Regions from separate parts of the Homo sapiens genome. Here regions 2 and 3 are each linked to region 1. The links come from fine-mapping of genetic effects on gene expression. A gene starts in region 1. Each other region holds a variant in brackets. All regions are shown on one strand. Distances are from middle to middle. Region 1 holds the start of TOP3A (DNA topoisomerase III alpha). Region 2 overlaps TOP3A (DNA topoisomerase III alpha). Region 3 overlaps LLGL1 (LLGL scribble cell polarity complex component 1).

Region 1 (5,957 bases):
GCAGGTACTGAGGACTTCAATACTGTCCTCGCTGATGGTCCTGTGGCTGACTGCTTTGCTCCGGACCACCTGGGGGCTCAATGGTACTGTGAGGCTTGCCTGGCTGTCAGATTTAGAAAGCACGGAGGTGGATTTCTCCGTGCCCAAAACTTCAATACTTTCACCACTGCTGATACTCCCTTTCATATCCATATCCAGGTAGTCCAAGTTTTCCTGGGGGTCGAAACTGCTCAACTCAGTCACTTCCACTTCCTTGTACTCCTCATCTCCCAGTTCCTGCTCCATCTTGATCAACACAGACTCCACACTGGACTTGTAAGAACCAACACTAATTAACACTTTAGGAATTGGGCATTCTTCTAGAGAACTGGAAGGCGGCCTGTCTTGACTGGGCTTAGAGGGTATGCTTTCTTGTTTCTCCACCATCCTGTCATCGACCTCCACAAAGTCTTCAAAGAGAAAGTTTGTTATATGCTGTTGTTTTAGAAGTGCTCTATCAATCTGACTGGTCAGGAGGTAACACAGGTCTCCTCTGAACATGTGTTCAATGTGGCTGAGCTGAGCCAGGGTCTGGGTGAAATATTCAGTGTCACAGAGCTCCTCCAAGGTCTTCAACTTCTTGTCAAAACACTTGGTGGACTTTGCTTTGATAAGTTTTGGGGTGTAGGCTGGTCTGCAGGTGTAAAGGTCTGTGTCGGCAGACTCATCAGGGTTAGAGGTAGTGGATGCCTGGCTGGCCTGATCCTGGATGTGCTCCATCTCACCAGGACACAAATCATGCCCCTTCAACTTCCGATGAGGGTATGAGCGGATCTGCTTCAGCAGGTCTTGATGTTCAATGATGGACTTCTCCACACTGGCCAGTTCATTGGCTTTCTCAATTGCCTGAGATGAGTAAAAGCCTTTGTCGTTGGCTTTCTTCTGGATCTCCGTTTCTGTGTGTAGCACTGTCCTGGTGTAATCCAAGTCTTTCAGCTTTTTTTCAAGTTCCCCAGCAAATGCCTTCCTGTTGCCAGTCTTCAAGCACTCAGAAGCTCTGGAAAATTCGGCTGAAAGCTCCTGGAACTGCTGCATGATTTTATGCTGGTCTGCAGAGATATAAGCCATGCAAAACGGCCTCACGAAGCCACGGGCCTCCAGGTCGTATAGGGTAAGGTGGTGCACGTATGCAAAGGCGCCCTCCTTAGAATCTCCCAGCACCACCTTGGAGTCCTCCACGAAGTTCAGCTTGGGGTAGGCAGATCCAGGAGGATGGCCCACGAAGGAAGCCTGGTAATCCACAGACATGATACGCAGGGAGAAGTAATTGAGATCAAAAGTGCCAAAAACTTTGGTGTCATTGGGGATGGTCAGTAAGGGTTGGGGTCCCACCTGCTCAGAGAACTCGGAAATAAGAATGAAGTCCCTCGAAAACTTGGCCCCGGACAGTTTTGACCAGGGGTTAGCACCCTGACTGGCGAAGGGGAAGAGCGGCACCGAGTACTCCTCAGGCAGGGCCGGCTCATTGTAAGGCTCTTCTTCATACTCTTCCTCTTTGGTGAAGGCCACTACGTCAGGGGCGCTGATCATATTTCCAGATATATGAAGAAAACATTGAGAGGAAGTGGGAAAGAATGCGGTGTTAATCGACGCGCAGAAGGCAGGCCTCCGGAGAAGGAAGTGAAGCCCTTACGGCCTTCTTTGCGACTCCCCGAACCCGGGGTCCTAGGCTGCTTCTCACACACCCGAGGAGAAGAACTCTAGCAGCCCCCTCACAGTTGTAGCTCCTCCGGAGCTCTCTGAGGCCTCATGAACGCCAAGGCCGCAGGCCCAACTGCCCTTCTCTTCTTCGTCCGGCGAGCGCGGCCAGCACAAGAAACCTGCTGCGAAATCACCTGCACTCTCCGGAACCCACTGCGACAGCAAAAGCCCCCGCTCTGAACAAGGCTTAACGCGAGGCTACGGGACGCCGCAGGGGTCAGCCAAGCGCTGCTGCCCCTCACTGCCCGAGGGCAGAAACCGTCGCGGCTCCTAGGACGCCACAACCCGGATCCTGCTACCGCGGCGCCGCCATCTTGACATCACATGACTCCTGGTGTCCGCGCCGCGTGACCCGGAAGCGTCCTCGTAGACTTCCGAGCAGGAGATTAAAAAGTCATGAGAAAGAGGCCTTGGATGGGAGTGTCTGGCGGCTCCCCGCAAGAAGGAGTCCGATTAACCAACCACTGCCGGGAAGGAGGGGAAAGAGGGGCGGAGTGAGACGGGGGCGGCGGGAAGGTGGCAGAGGGGAACGTGCTTGGACGAGGGGCGCGGGACAGTCTGGGAGTTGTAGTTCCAGGTCGCTGTGGGGCGCGCGCCTGGCGGAAGTAGCTGGAGAAGGCGGGCGGAAGTTCCACGCCAAGATACTGGATTCGGTGCTGAGGCGGCGGCTGCGGCACGGGAAAGGCTCAGTGACTGAAGCTCCAAAGGCCAGCAGGCTGGTGGGGACGTGACCGAAGCGAGGCTCTGGTTCCCTTTCGGTGGGCGCCATTTGAGCCTCATCTCTGGCTTCCCCAGGATGCGCCGGCAGCCGGGGAGCGGCTCCGGGCGCGAGGTCTGAGGATGATCTTTCCTGTCGCCCGCTACGCGCTCCGGTGGCTGCGACGGCCCGAAGACCGTGCCTTTTCCCGCGCCGCCATGGAGATGGCCCTCCGAGGCGTGCGGAAAGTCCTCTGTGTGGCCGAAAAAAACGACGCGGCCAAGGGGATCGCCGACCTGCTGTCAAACGGTCGCATGAGGCGGGTAAGAAAGCGCGTTCCGATCAGCTGCGTGCCTTAAGGGAGGCCCACCGAGCGGGACAGCGTGGTGGGCGCCAAGAATCGAGATGAAGGCGATTATCTCCCATTTCTCAGGCCTCACTGCCCCTCGTCTGGATTATTGCAGTGGCCTCCTGTCTGCTCTCGGACTGGAGTGCATTTTAAAACGTAGTTGATACATCTCACTCATTTGCGTGGAAACCTTTTGTTTTGCTTGCGCTTAGCAGGTTCCCAAACTTGTCTGATTCTCGGAATCGCCTCGGGCGCTGGCTGCCCTTCGGGTCTTGTGTGAGGCTGGGGAAGTGTGTATTTTACTGTTTTTCCCTAGAGATTCAGAAATTCATTTGGGAACTACTGACCAGATTCCCTTAACTTGGCATTCAAGCCCTGCCCGATCGTTCCCCAGCCAACCTAGCCCTCCCCATCCTGTGCCACAGCCACTGCATTCTACAGCCCTTGTGACTTTCCAGCCTCACAGTGCACACTTACAGCAACACGGTAAGGTTTGGGGATTAGATTTGAAGTCAGCCCTGTTCCTACCCGAATGAACTGATTCTGAGAGAGGTAAGTGGTAAGAATGTGTTCTACACACACGGGAGGCACAAACGCAAGGGAGGATAAGAAAAAGTTTCATAAAGGAGGTGCCACGGGAGACATAAAGAGCTGTCCAGGAAAATATCTCAGATAACAAAAGTAGATCCTGAAATGGTTTTCTGGAGAACTTTTCTAAGAGCATGGGTGGAAGTTCCCTGCTCATTTTTCTTTAGTTCCCAGGGTCCTAAGACCTGTTTCCAGATCAAGGATAGTGGGAGTGGAGCCAGGGTTGTGTGAATGCTGGCTGACAGCTTTACCTGTTTCCAGTGCTAGAAGTCCTGGTGACCAGCCCCAAGGTTTGTCTACTTCTAGACAATGAAGTAGACATTGAAAAATGGTTCTCCTACGCCTAACTTCTTATCCTTCAAGGCTCTGCTGAATTCATTCTCTCTCTCTCCCTTTTTTTTTTTTTTTTTTAAGCAATCCAGAGGTCTTGTATTTATCTATTTTTACCCTATCATACCATGAATCCATAGGGAATAGGTTCCAGCGGCTCAGGCTCTTTTCCATTGGTTCTCACAAAGTGTACTTCCCTCAATGGAACAGGCTGGCACTTCAGGTGAACCCTTTCTCTTTGACTTGCTTCTTTTTTGATCATTTTCCTTCACACATTTCAGGAAAGATCTTGGTTCTTAGAGTGCTTAATATGCTCAATAGAAACATTAATTCTTTGGGCAAGAATCTAGCCCTTGTTCGCAGCAGTGCCAACAGCATGCTGGGTAACATAGACTTTTCCAGTTCTGCCATGTAACATTTGTGGGTCATTCCCTTTTGAACAGTATGCATTCTCACGAAGTCCTCAATATCACCTTCATTGTAGATTCTGGTGTCTGTGGCCAGAGAAACTCCATATTTTTGTTTTGTTTTGTTTGTTTGTTTTGAGATGGAGCTTTGCTCTTGTTGCCCAGCCTGGAGTGCAATGGTGTGATCTCAGCTCACTGCAACCTCCGCCTCCCGGGTTCAAGCGATTCTCCTGCCTCAGCCTCCCTAGTAGCTGGGATTACAGGTGCCTGTCACCATGCCCAGCTAATTTTTTGTATTTTTAGTAGTTTCACTGTGTTGGCCAGGATGGTCTTGAACTCCTGACTTCAGGTGAGCCACCCGCCTTAGCCTCCCAAAGTGTTAGGGTTACAGGCGTGAGCCACCGTGCCCAGCTCGAACTCCATGTTTTCTATAAGGCCAGGAGAACATACATCAGATGCCTCGTCCTCTTTTCCTTTGTGTTCGTCATTTTGGCAAATTACTCCAAGATGGCAGTTCCAGCCAAAAGGAAAGACTTTTCTTGGAAAGAGAATTTTTATTTTTATGTACAGAAAACACAACAGTGTGTACTTAACCCAGTTTAGTGGCAAATTCTTTAGCCTTTGCCTTTTCTAGGTTGGTAATGCAAGCTACAGATTTTGGACCCAGGGCATTGCCTCCCCAGTGACAGCAGATCTCATATGTCGTTGTAATTTGTCCCACCAGCTTAGCCAGAGCTCCTTTGTCTACCAGAAAGTTAACCTTTGTGAAGGTGACAGTGGTGCAGGTCTTCCTGTGGAATTTGACACCACAGTCTTGACGGTGCAGTAGAGAATCCCCATCTTAGGACACAGCACAGGCAGGAAGACAACCAGCTCAATGGGATCCACCACCAGCTGACCCTTCATGCTCTCTACCAAGTTGGTGACGGTGTCAACCCCTGCTCGAAGTGTAGGTGGTCTCTTAGTAGCGACATCCCCTTTGCTGGAAGCTTTCTTCTCAGCCTGGGCCAACGGTTTCGATCTCATCCCTTGCTCTGTCTCTTGTCTGTACTGTGGGCCAGCTTAAGCAATTGAGTAGCTTAAGTTTGGTAGTCTGAGGCCTGGGTGAACTGGTCAATCCCAGGTGGCACATCAGCCACTTATAGAGTACAGCGGCTCTGCCGCAGCAGCCATTTATAGCGGGACTATTTGACAAAGTGGGTGAGGCCCTTAGGCTAGATATCCAATGCCAAAATTATTAGGGCTTTTCTCAAATGGGATTTACCACCTTTTTGGCCTACTGCTGCTCCATGACAACAGGGGCCAGGGCCACTTCTTCCCCTTGGCCATCTTTCCTTTTGGCATCTGGGGCGGCTAGAGGAGAGAGGCTGCTGAAATGTCTCATCTTCAAGGAATCCTTCCCTCACCACCTGTTCCCCCACACTAGGTCAGAGACCCTTACTGACATGCTGTCATAGCACTCTATTCTACTTGAAAGGCATCTACTAGTTACAGTTAAATAATGGGATGTGCGATCATTTATTTGATTTTTGTCACTGCCTCTCCTTGGACTCTAAACTCCAAAGGACAGTGATTATATTTTGTTAATTGCTATGTCCTAACGCCTAATATGGTGTCTGGAATGCAGGAAACTTTCAATAAATATTAATACTTGGGCTGAGCGCAGCGGCTCATGCCTGTAATCCCAGCAGTTGGGGAGGCTCAAGCGGGCAGACCACCTGAGGTCGTGAGTTCAAGACCAGCCTGGCCAACATGGCAAAACCCCATCTCTACTAAAAATACAAAAATTAGCCAGGTGTGGTGGCGGGGTCCTGTAATCCCAGCTACTCACGAGGCTGAGGCAGGA
Region 2 (5,957 bases), 37 kb after region 1:
ACCATGAAGGGCTCTTTCCCTGCCCTCTCCAGATAGATGATTGCTACACCAGGCTTAGGAAATTATTCACATATTAAATACAACATCCAAGCTTGGGCTACGTAGCAAGACCCCATCTCTTTAAAAAAAAAAATTTTTATTTAAAAAAAAATTTTTTTTAAGACAGTCTCGCTGGGTTGCCCAGGCTGAAGTGCAGTGGCGCAGTCTTGACTCACTGCAACCTCCGCCTTCTGGGTTGAAGTGATTCTTCTGCCTCAGCGTCCTGAGTAGCTGGGATTACAGGCATGCACCACTATGCCTGACCACTTTTTGTATTTTTAGTAGAGACAGGGTTTCACCATGTTGGCCAGGCTGGTCTCGAACTCCTGGCCCCAAGTGATCCACCCACCTTGGCCTCCCAAAGTGCTGGGATTATAGATGTGAGCCACTGCACCTGGCCAAAAAAAATTTTAAATTAGCCAGATGTGGTGACATATGCCTATAGGCCAAGCTGGTCAGGAGGCTGAGGCAGGAGGATCGCTTGATCCTAGAGGTCTAGGCTGTAGTGAGCCATGATTTCACCACTGCTCTCCAGCCTGGAATGACAGAGCCAGACCCTGTCTCTAGAAATAAATGAATAGGCCGAGCCTGGTGGCTCAGGCCTGTAATCCCAGCATTTTGGGAGGCCGAGACAGGCGGATCACGAGGACAGGAGATCGAGACCATCCTGGCTAACATGGTGAGACACTGTCTCTACTAAAAATACAAAAAATGGCCAGGCGTGGTGGCTCACGCCTGTAATCCCAACACTTTGGGAGGCCGAGGTGGGTGGATCACGAGGTCAGGAGATCGAGACCATCCTGGCTAACATGGTGAAACCCCGTCTCTACTAAAAATACAAAAAATCAGCCAGGCGTACTGGTGGGCGCCTGTAGTCCCAGCTACTCGGCAGGCTGAGGCAGGAGAATGGCGTGAACCCAGGAGGCAGAACTTTCAGTGAGCCGAGATTGCACCACTGCACACCAGCCTGGGCGACAGAATGATACTCTGTCTCAAAAAAAAAAATTTTAATAATTTATTTCTAGTAAATGCATTGCATACTACTGTAAATAACTTGTTTTTTAGGGTAATAAAATACCTATTTTCAAAAGCAAAATAATAATGACATTAATGACATTGTTTTACATTTTGCAATTTGTATGTCTGGCTTAATAGAAGAGAGCTGGATTCCCGTATCTGCTTCTGCAGTCAGCCTGCTGAGTCATTGCATGTGCTGGAACCTCCAGGAAACTCCGTTGTATACACATGGAAGAATAAGAGCAAAATAGACATAACCTCTTAGAATTTTTTTTGAGACAGAGTCTTGCTCTGTCACCAGGCTGGAGTGCAGTGGCACAATCTTGGCTCACTGCAACCTCTGACTCCCAGGTTCAAGAGGTTCTCCTGCCTCAGCCTCCCGAGTAGCTGGGACTACAGGCGCGTGCCACCATGCCCAGCTAATTTTTGTATTTTTGGTAGAGATGGGGTTTCACCATGTTGGTCAGGATGGTCTCAATCTCTTGATTTTGTGATCCGCCCGCCTCAGCCTCCCAAAGTGCTGGGATTACAGGTTTGAGCCACCACACCTGGCCTATAAAAGAGTTTTGCACTCTCCTTGAAAGGGCTCAGGCACCCTGGAACCACACTTGGAGAACTGCTGATACAGAGACATGGGACTTCTCAGAGGTGTTTTTATTTTAGTGAATTACTGGGATCTTAGATTTCATCTGCACTGTTTCCCACTGTCCACTCCTGTGATGACTGGTGGGGGCTTGTGGTGGGCTGATAGAGGGCCTCACAGGGGACTTGTGTGGGCTTCCTGATGCATAAGGAATGGTGGAGAGAGGCCTAGGGCTAAAGCAGCCCTCACTGGACTAAGGAGAAGCTGGCATCTGGTTGTTAATGTTTTTTCTCATCTTCTGGCCTCACTAGGTTAAAGTTAAAGTTTAAGCGCGGTAGCCTTCCCCCGACCATGCCTCTGGAGTTTGTTTGCTGCATCGGCGGATGCGACGACACCCTGAGGGAGATCCTGGACCTGAGATTTTCAGGGGGCCCCCCCAGGGCTAGCCAGCCCTCTGGCCGCCTGCAGGCTAACCAGTCCCTGAACAGGATGGACAACAGCCAGCACCCCCAGCCTGCTGACAGCAGACAGACTGGGTCCTCAAAGGCTCTGGCCCAGACCCTCCCACCACCCACGGCTGCTGGTGAAAGCAATTCTGTGACCTGCAACTGTGGCCAGGAGGCTGTGCTGCTCACTGTCCGTAAGGAGGGCCCCAACCGGGGCCGGCAGTTCTTTAAGTGCAACGGAGGTAGCTGCAACTTCTTCCTGTGGGCAGACAGCCCCAATCCGGGAGCAGGAGGGCCTCCTGCCTTGGCATATAGACCCCTGGGCGCCTCCCTGGGATGCCCACCAGGCCCAGGGATCCACCTAGGTGGGTTTGGCAACCCTGGTGATGGCAGTGGTAGTGGCACATCCTGCCTTTGCAGCCAGCCCTCCGTCACACGGACTGTGCAGAAGGATGGACCCAACAAGGGGCGCCAGTTCCACACATGTGCCAAGCCGAGAGAGCAGCAGTGTGGCTTTTTCCAGTGGGTCGATGAGAACACCGCTCCAGGTGAGGCAGGGAGGGGCATGGGAATCCCTGCCTTCAGTTTTCAGGTGTTTACCTCAGAGACTGGGGACAGCAGAAAGAAGGCAAGGCAGGGTCATGGTGGGATTGGGAGGGGCACCTGGGCTGCCTTGCACCTCACTTTTCCTCACTTGATCACTTTCAGCAAGGTGATAATTGTACAGTCCTCATTCCAAATTAAAGGGTAGCTACCAGTAATGGTGTCACTTGCCCTATGCCTGGCACTATGCTAAGTATACTTCCTGTGCATCTTCCATCCTCATTGGGTAAGCATTATGATCACAATTTTACTTATAAGTGAGAAAGGTGAGACCCAGACACATGAAGTGGGTATTGCTCAGGGTCCCATAGCAACAGACACCAGGATGAGTACATAGGCCTTCCCAGTCCCATGGCCATGTGCCCTTGCAGCTGTCGTGACCCTTGGCAGACCATAAGCATCAGCCTCATTTCTTTTTTTTTTTTTTTTTTTTT[G/TG]GAGACTGAGTTTTGCTCTTGTTGCCCAGACTGGAGTGCAATGGTGCAATCTTGGTTCACTGCAACTTCCACCTCCCAGGTTCAAATGATTCTCCTGCCTCAGCCTCCCAGGTAGCTGGGATTACAGGCATGCACCACCACGCACAGCTAATTTTGTATTTTTAGTAGAGACGGGGGTTTCACCCTGTTGGTTAGGCTGGTCTCGAACTCCACCTCAGGTGATCCACCTGCCTTGGCCTCTCAAAGTGCTGGGATTACAGGCGTGAGCCACCGTGCCTGGCCCAGCCTCATTTCTTCAGATGAAGATGCCAACCCCGATGATATTTAGGAACCTGCCCAGGGTGACACAGCTTGGGCCAATGTCCGGGAACTGGGTGTCATGAGAAGTGGCACCTGGACATTGCATCAAGTTGAATGGTGTACGTGGAGGCACTTTGAATGGTTCCTCCTGCTCCAGTGCACAACAGAGCTTAAGTAGCTGAGAATGACCCAAAGGCCTAGTGGGAGCTTTGGAGTTGAGCAAATCTGGTTCCAAAGCTCAGCAGTATAACCTTGAACAAATGACTTAGCCTCTCTGCCTCAAGTTTGCTCAACAAGATGGTCCCTGCCTACATTCATAGGGTTCCTGTTTTAGAAAGGAGTTTAGTCTCAGACTATGATTCTTACACATGTGTCACTAGCCCGGCATGCACAGAAAGAAACCAGAGGTTTGGTAAAAACTGTGGGACTTGGAACTGGCTACCAGTGCTAATGGGGCCCAGAGATGGCCATTGCAGTGAGAGACCCACATTTGAAGTGAGATGCAGTCTGGCCTCTTGTCTCCCCACTTGGAAGGACATGGTATCTGACCTCCAGGCTGGCTGACTGACTGTCCTGGGTAAATGAGCAGCTGGTCTGGAAAGGCCTGTTGAGGGGACAGGAAGGGATCCAGAGCTGGACTTTCCTGCATGGAGGTGGGCCGCAGGTTGCCGGTCATAGGCTGCTTGTCTTTCCCACCCTACCACACAGGCCAGCTTGCTTGGGTTTCTGCCTCTGTAAAAAGGGCCGGCATGAAAGTCCACTTACCAAGTGAGTGTGGGACAATGTCTCCAAAGCTTAGGATTCTTGAGGGAGAGGTGTCAGGTAACATAAGGCAGCAGGCACATCGCACCTCAACCTTACAGAGTTGGACACAGTGTGAAGGGAGGCTGGCTGGTGGGGTGTACATGGCTGTATAAAAACTGATTCAGCCGGTCGGGCGCGGTGGCTCATGCCTGTAATCCCAGCACTTTGGGAGGCCGAGGCGGGTGGATCACGAGGTCAGGAGATCGAGACCATCCTGGCTAACACAGTGAAACCCCGTCTCTACTAAAAATACAAACAATTAGCCGGGCATGGTGGTCGGTCCCTGTAGTCCCAGCTACTCTCGGGAGGCTGAGACAGGACAATGGCGTGAACCCGGGAGGCGGAGCTTGCAGTGAGCCAAGATTGCACCACTGCATTCCAGCCTAGGCGACAGAGCCAGACTCCACCTCAAAAAAAAAAGGCCGGGCACGGTGGCTCACGCCTGTAATCCCAGCACTTCGGGAGGCCAAGGCGGGCGGATCACAAGGTTAGGAGATCGAGACCATCCTGGCTAACATGATGAAACCCGTCTCTACTAAAAATACAAAAAATAAAGTAGCCGGGCGTGGTGGCGGGTGCCTGTAGTCCCAGCTACTCGGGAGGCTGAGGCAGGAGAATGGCGTGAACCCGGGAGGTGGAGCTTGCAGTGAGTGGAGATCACGCCACTGCACTCCACACTCCAGCCTGGGTGACAGAGCGAAGACTCCATCTCAAAAAAAAAAAAAAAAAAAAAAAAAGTTGGTTCAGCCTTATCGTCTGCTGCTCTTTTTTTTTTTTTTTTTTTTTTTGAGACAGGGTCTTGCTCTGTTGCCCAGGCTGGAGTGCAGTGGTGTGATCACAGCTCACTGTAGCCTCCCAGGCTCAGGCATCCTCCCGAGTAGCTGTGACCACAGGCATACACCACACCTGGCTAATTTTTGCATTTTTTAAAGACAAGGTTTCACCATGTTGCCCAGGCTGATCTTGAACTCCTGGGCTCAAGCAATCCTCCTCCCTCAGCTTCCTAAAGTGCTGGGATTACAGGCATGAGCCACCGTGTTCAGGACTTGCCACTTCTGCATGTCAGTTCTAACCTCACCCCTCCCCTGACTCTCCCGACAGGGACTTCTGGAGCCCCGTCCTGGACAGGAGACAGAGGAAGAACCCTGGAGTCGGAAGCCAGAAGCAAAAGGCCCCGGGCCAGTTCCTCAGACATGGGGTCCACAGCAAAGAAACCCCGGAAATGCAGCCTTTGCCACCAGCCTGGACACACCCGTCCCTTTTGTCCTCAGAACAGATGAGCTCAGGGTAGGGTAGAGAACGCCACTTTCTCAGACCTGTCCCCTTTGTGTTTAGAAATGAGTTAACCAGGACCAAGTGGCCATTTAGTGTCCTGGAAACTTAGAGGACAGTGTTGGCCTTTGGAGTCGGGCCTTCTTGTGTTAAGGGGCACAAGGTCCAGATCACTCTGGAGCAGGCCAGCTCTGCTGGACAGTGACCCTCTTCCCAGGCCTCAGGAGTGACCATAGCCACTGCTGAAAAGTCACGCAGCTGCTCCCTCGGACCCCCCAAGGATGGTTGCTGTTAGCAGAGGATTGGTGCAGTCCCAGCTGAAGCCCACTGTGTGCCAAAGGAAGAAGCTCCCAGGGCTGCTTCCTTCACCTGCAGAAAGCCCCAAGTGAGCCACCAGCACTCATGGGGCAGTCCCTGTCCAGGCTGCCCAGGGCTTCTCATAGACGTCCTGAGAAGGAC
Region 3 (5,957 bases), 84 kb after region 1:
CCAGGCCCAGCTCAAGGCATCCCGCCCTGAACCGCTGCCCATCTCCATGCTGCCTTTGCACAGCAGGTTCCCACAGCCTCCCCCAGATCCTCCCTGCCCGGTGGCTGGCCCCAGCCAAGTTCTCCAGTACCTGGCACCATCAAAGCCGGGCCGGCTGGGCAGCTGGAAACTGAGTGCTTCTTCCAGGTGGGCACAGCCATTATGGTGGACAATCTCCCAGAGATGCAGACTGCTGTCATCAAGCAGGGACAGGAGGCGGCCCTGGTGTGTGAGCAGAGATGAAAACTAGGCTGGCCTAGGGGGATGAGTAGATATGGGGGCCACAGGGAGCTGGCTAGTGGGAAGCAGAGGCTCACCTGGCCGGTCAAGAAGTGCATCTGTGTGACAGTGGCTGCATCCCGGTGCAGGCCTGTGAACTCCACGCCAGGTGCACCATAGCTGAGGGTGGCAGGTCAAGGTGGAAATAGGCATAGACCAGCAAACCACAGTGAGGAAGACACCCAAGGCTCCTCCTTGACCCGGACTATTCCAGTGGGCCCCGGCATGGGCCTGACCATCCAGGAGTCCTCCCTGAAGAACGGAGGCCCCCTCCCTAAAGCTCCCACTCTGCACCCCTACAGTATCCCCAAGATCAGTGTGCAGGCTCCACTCACTCCTGCAAGTCAGGTGCTGCTATAGGACCTTCACTTCCCGTAAATTGGGCCAGTGACTCCCACTTTACAGGACTGTTGCAGATCAAGTGAGAATAAACACACCCAGCAGGCTTGGCCTCAGCCTGGTGAGAGGATGGGGCTCCGCTCCACTTCAGCTCCGTGTGTCTATGGGTTCTGGGAGCTGCGCCTTGCCGGATGGGATCAGGCAGGCCAGAGGTGCAAGGCCAGGCCTGGACAAGAAAGCCAGGGGGCAGAAGAGTCCAGGCTGCCTTTTCCCACAGCTTCAGGCCAAACTTCAGCCATGGGTAAGAAAACCCACCTCCTCTGGGCACGGTGGCTCGCTCCTGTAATCCCAGCACTTTGGGAGGCCGAGGCAGGTAGATCACAAGGTCAGGAGTTGAGGACCAGCCTGGCCAAGATGGTGAAACCTCGTCTCTACTAAAAACGCAAAAATTAGCCGGGCATGCTGGCAGGCACCTGTAATCCCAGCTATTTGGGAGGCTGAGGCAGAGAACTGCTTGAACCCGGGAGGCAAAGGTTGCAGTGAGCCAAAACTGTGCGACTGCACTCCAGCCTGGGCAACAAAGAGCAAGACTCCATCTCAAAAAAACAAAACAAAACAAAAAAAACCCACCTCCCTCCAAAGCAGGCAGCCAACAACTGCCATCATGAGGGAGGAGAGACTCCAGCCTGCCCATTTCACAGATGAGCACACAGACTTGGAGGGGGTGGATGACCTGCTTGAAGTGCCCAGTGTCAGTGCCTGAGTCCCGGCAACTCCAGGGCTGATGGTGGACAGCAGGGCCTGAGGGGGCCCCATGACAGAGGGTGCAGGGAGGAGTCAGCAACGTTGCCCCGGTGACAACACAGGAGCCGTTGCCTGGAGCTTGAGCTCAGATTCCCTACAGGAGCCTGGCGAGAAACTCCGAAGAAGGGACAAAAGAGGGGACAGGAGCAGCTGGGCGGGAACCAGGGTCGTCAAGGAGATGGGGCTGGCCTGGCAGGGGGAGGGGCAGCTTCTAGTGACCAGGGCTGGCCCTCTCCAGCCTCAGTTTCCCAACCCAAGGGGCTCCAGGCAGTGGCAGTCAGGGGAAAAAGGGAAGAGGACCCCGGGCTCCAGCCTCCTTTCTGAGGCTCAGTCTCCTCATCTGCACTTCAGGTTCTTTTTGAGCCTGAGGACAAGTGCACTGGAGACCCCAACACAGGAGGGACACCTGAAGGCTGCAGGGACACATGTGCGCACGCAGCGCAGCACCCACAGGAGTGGGAGCAGCAGGCCAGGCAGCGGAGCATGTGGGGCCCAGAGCACTGCCACACTCACCAACAGAGGCCGCTGGGGCCATGGGAGAGAAGGGGACATCTCAGCCCATCCACACTCCCCAGAGTAGGCAAAGAGCTCACAAACCACAGGCTCAGAGTCCCATCCCTGCCTGATCAGTGCCCCCAGTCCTGGGGTGAGGAGACCCCCATCCCACACCCTCCCCTTTCCCAGCACTGACACATTTTCTGGGAACTGATGTCTGAAACCAGGATACTGAAACCCAGAAGGCCACACAGGAGGGGTAGGGGTCAGCACCCCTCACCAAGCCGCCATCAGCCAGACCCTGGCACCTCGGCTTCCCCAAGAGCAGTTGGGGTGGGATTCTCCAGGGCTGGCAAGGAGACACTGAGCTGCCGGCCTGCCCCCACCCCCACCCCAGGCCTGCAGGGAAAATGCCCGCTTTGTGTGGCTCACACAGCCCATTGTGCAGCAGCCAGTATCCAGGTGGGGGCCGTGCTGTGCTCACCATGCCGAGCCTGGCACTGCCCCCAGGCCCCTTTGCTGAACACATGTGTCTTCACATTCACACATGTGTGCATCAGCTCACCAGGGCCCCCAGCCCACCTGCCACCCTCCATGGGTATCATAGCCCAGCCTTCTGCCTGGCCTCCCCAGAGTTGCTGGGACGATGGCAGGGTCGCCTAGGTAACTGGCTGGCTGACACGTAGCAAGGGACAGCTGTGCTACTGCAAACTGACCCCCCACCACCCGTCTCTCAGCAAAAGGACCCCATCATCTCTGCACAGTTGTCTCAGGTACAGAAGCCACGCCAACCTCCGCAGAAGCCCCCACTACTGCCCATCAGAGCACCTCTGTCCTCCTCTCGAGCTGGACACTGCCAAGACTGGGACCCCAGAGCACAGGGAACTACAGGCAGGTGGTCCTGAACAGACCCTGAACACCTGTCCTGCAAAGGATACATCTTGACAGCCCCAGACCTGGTGCCGATGGCCATGATGCGAAGTTCCGGGTCGAAGGCCAGGGCGCTGGGCTGATTGGGGAAGCCATGCTCCACAGTCTGCAAGGAGGGGAGGGCTGCTGGGGGTAAGCACTCCCAGGCACCTCTGCCATGGCCCACCCTGAGGCCCACCCCAAGGCAGCCTCCAGGGTCTGCAGCTGACACACTGGGGGTAGGAGGCAGGTCTACTTGCTCTGTGCCTCAGCGTCCTCAACTGTGAAATGGGTTATCATGCCTCCAGTTGGTGGGGAGGTGGCTAAACCCCTAGCCTCCACCATGACTGTACCGCGTGCATAGTCCACAGAGGCCCGCCCTTTGCCAAGCCCCTGTGCCCC[T/C]CAATGCACACAGGCTCATGTGGGCCCCACTGCATGGAGGCTCCAGCAACAAACAGGTGAAGCAAGGCTCACAGAGGTGCAGGCACTGATGAGGCCCCACCTGCTCCATGAAGGGCTCTGCACCCCATTTTTAGAGGCACAGACTAAAGCTTGCGGAGGAGTCCCGCAAGATGACCATGACACTCCCCAAACACAGGCCTGAGTGGAGGTCAGAGGTCAAGGGACAACATCCAGGATCAGCTAGGCAGAGGCTTTTGACTCCTCCCAGACACAGGGAGACAGAGGCCCAGAGAGGGGTAGCTTTCTGCCTGGACCCCGAAGGCATCCTCCCACCTCCCCACCTGCCAACAGCTGGGCAACATGACTCCCATAACCATCAGGGGCGGAGATGGTGTTAAGGGGGTCTGTGTGCCCAGAGTGTCGATGAAACAGCTCCCCACCCGCTCCCCTGCCCCTTTCACAGCACACCCTTTCTGCACCAGTCTCCTGTCTTTGGCCTGGCTGTGCCCTCCCTGGGAAGCCTGCACAGCTGAGCTCCAGCCCCATCCTGAACACCAGTGCAGGACACCCACGTGGGCCACTGGTAACTCCTTTTATCTTGTTGTTGTTATTTATTTTTCACTTTTACCACTGGTAATTCCTGACCCACTGCCTCAGGAAGATGCACATTTGTAAGAAACCCCAGTTCCCAGCCTGTAACGCGAACCTCCCTCCCTGCCTGCCTCTGCCCATCCAGGTGGGGACTGAGCCCTCTGGGCAGCTGGTTTGGTCACGGCCTAGCTGTCTGGCCTTGGGCAAGTCACAGTACTCTCCAAGACTCAGTACTCTCCAAGCTTCAGTCTCTCATCTGGGCCCTTGGGACAGTAAGCCCACCTAAGGACAGAGTTGGCGATTTGGCTGGGGCTTCTCTCTCCCACCAATAATACCACGCCCTTGCTGCACCTGACCTTGTCTAGCCAGTCCCTCGCTACAACCAGGGTCCAGAGACGGGACACTGCATCGCAAATCCCCACAGCCTTCCCATTTTACAAACGAGGAAAGGAGGTTACATGCACTGTCCAGCATCTGCTTCCCTCATACCCCACGTCCAGTCCATTTCTGAGCCCCATCAACTCAGTTTCAAAACACACAGAAGTCACCTCCCTCCCTGCTCCAGGCCCCACCGTCACGTGCCTGGATTGGTACTCACTACAGTCTGTTCCCACAGAGGCCAGAGGGATCCTATGAAAGCCACAGCCAGATCCTTGTCCCTCCCCTGCTCAGGATCCTCCTGGGGCTCCCAGCTAAGGGAGGCTTGTGCCTCAGGGCCTTTGCACCTACTGCCCCTCTGCCTGGAACGCACTTCCTCCAGCACTTCCTGTCGCTCAGGAGTAATCTCCTCAGAGAAGCCTCCCAAGGCCACCCTGGCTGCAGCAGCCGCCCTGGCCACACCTCTCACCCCCTCGCCCTACTTTATTTGATCCACAGCACTGGCTACCATCCCAACTACAGTCTATTTTACTTTTTTGTTTTGGCTTTTCACTGTCTCCTGCACAACTATATCAGCCACCTGAGTTAACAGGTATTTGTCCTTTTTGGTAACTACTGTTGTCCCCAGCACCTTGGAGACCTCACACACAGTGGGGCTCAGTATTAACAGAGAAGGCACATTCCACAGGCGATGTGTGGGCTGGACTGGGATTTGAACCCAAGACTCAGAGTCCAAAGTCCCTGCTCACTCCTGACCTGTCTCCCACCCCCTAAGCTCAGGAATCAGGGGCCTATTCCCTAGCGATCACCTATTACCCACTTAGGTGACTAAGTCCCTTCCCCAAGACCACCCCACTTTCCACCACTGCTGCCCACGCTTCATCCTCAGCGGAGGGCCCTTACTTTCCGCCACCCCAAGGCTAGCCAGAGTGGGCTGAGCTTCACCCCCATCTGTCTCCAGCCCCCACTGCACACCCCAATTCACTGGCTGAAGAAATGACATTTAGGCCAGGCATGGCAGCTCATGTCTGTAATCCTAGCACTTTGGGAAGCCAACATGGATGGATAGATAGCTTGAACCCAGGAGTTCGAGACCAGCCTGGGCAACATGGTGAAACCCCATCTCTACAAAAAATACAAAAACTAGCCGGGCATGGTGACACGAGCCTGTAGTCCCAGCTTCAGGAGGCTGAGATGGGAGGATCACCTGAGCCAGGGAGTTGTGAGGCTGCAGTGGACTGTGATTGTGCCACTGCACTCCAGCCTGGGTGAGAGTGAGACCCCATTTCAAAAAAAAAAAAGTGACATTTAGCCCTGTGCCTGTTGCTGCCTTTCCCTGAAGGGCCATTCTCCTCTCACCTCACCCTCACAGCCTCCCCGGCACAGAAAATAGGTGCCATCTGGGGACCACGGAGCACCAGCTTCCCTTCTGGGCCCCTCTCAGGTTCCTAGCAGGTTCTCAGCCACCGTGTGAGGGTCCTGGCAGCTCTCATCGGCAATCACTGCAGACCTAGGCAGGGAAACCCTGAGACATCCCAGTGCCTCCACTACTCCAGGTCCAGCCGTCCCAGAGCCTCCTCCAAGACAAGTGTCTCCTCAAGGCAGCCCAGGGCGCCTGGCACAACACTGGCCCAGGACCACAGCAGCCCCTTGGAAAAATCCCTGCCCCTCAAGGCTAAAATCCAACCCCACTGACACAAGAACTCAAGAAAGATATTGGT

Evidence for each region. PIP is the estimated chance that this variant, and not a neighbour inherited with it, causes the effect. A credible set is the group of variants that fine-mapping cannot tell apart.
Region 2: its variant is the best candidate, but not a certain one, in a credible set for the expression of TOP3A in whole blood (INTERVAL, PIP 0.88).
Region 3: its variant is the best candidate, but not a certain one, in a credible set for the expression of TOP3A in thyroid (GTEx, PIP 0.63).

What each region holds. Positions count from the first base shown.
Region 1 is chr17:18,311,402-18,317,358 of GRCh38, reverse strand. It overlaps TOP3A (DNA topoisomerase III alpha), which reads left to right and starts at 2,365. Exons shown (of 19, transcript NM_004618.5): 1 at 2,365-2,760. The coding sequence starts at 2,581. It overlaps SMCR8 (SMCR8-C9orf72 complex subunit), which reads right to left and starts at 2,066. Exons shown (of 2, transcript NM_144775.3): 1 at 1-2,066. The coding sequence starts at 1,569. It also overlaps the pseudogene RPL7AP65 and the pseudogene RPL21P121. RefSeq lists enhancers at 2,006-2,055, 1,745-2,268, 2,396-2,745, 2,756-2,845, 2,793-3,316 and a silencer at 2,196-2,245.
Region 2 is chr17:18,274,351-18,280,307 of GRCh38, reverse strand. It overlaps TOP3A (DNA topoisomerase III alpha), which reads left to right. Exons shown (of 19, transcript NM_004618.5): 18 at 1,951-2,633; 19 at 5,328-5,957. The coding sequence ends at 5,506. Among named protein-coding and RNA genes, the nearest start is that of MIEF2, 17 kb to the right of the region's middle. The variant G/TG (reference allele first, on the strand shown) is at 3,123.
Region 3 is chr17:18,226,976-18,232,932 of GRCh38, reverse strand. LLGL1 (LLGL scribble cell polarity complex component 1) reads right to left here. Exons shown (of 23, transcript NM_004140.4): 2 at 2,895-2,992; 3 at 357-438; 4 at 131-261. Among named protein-coding and RNA genes, the nearest start is that of LLGL1, 4.3 kb to the right of the region's middle. RefSeq lists enhancers at 745-1,578, 1,579-2,414. The variant T/C (reference allele first, on the strand shown) is at 3,268.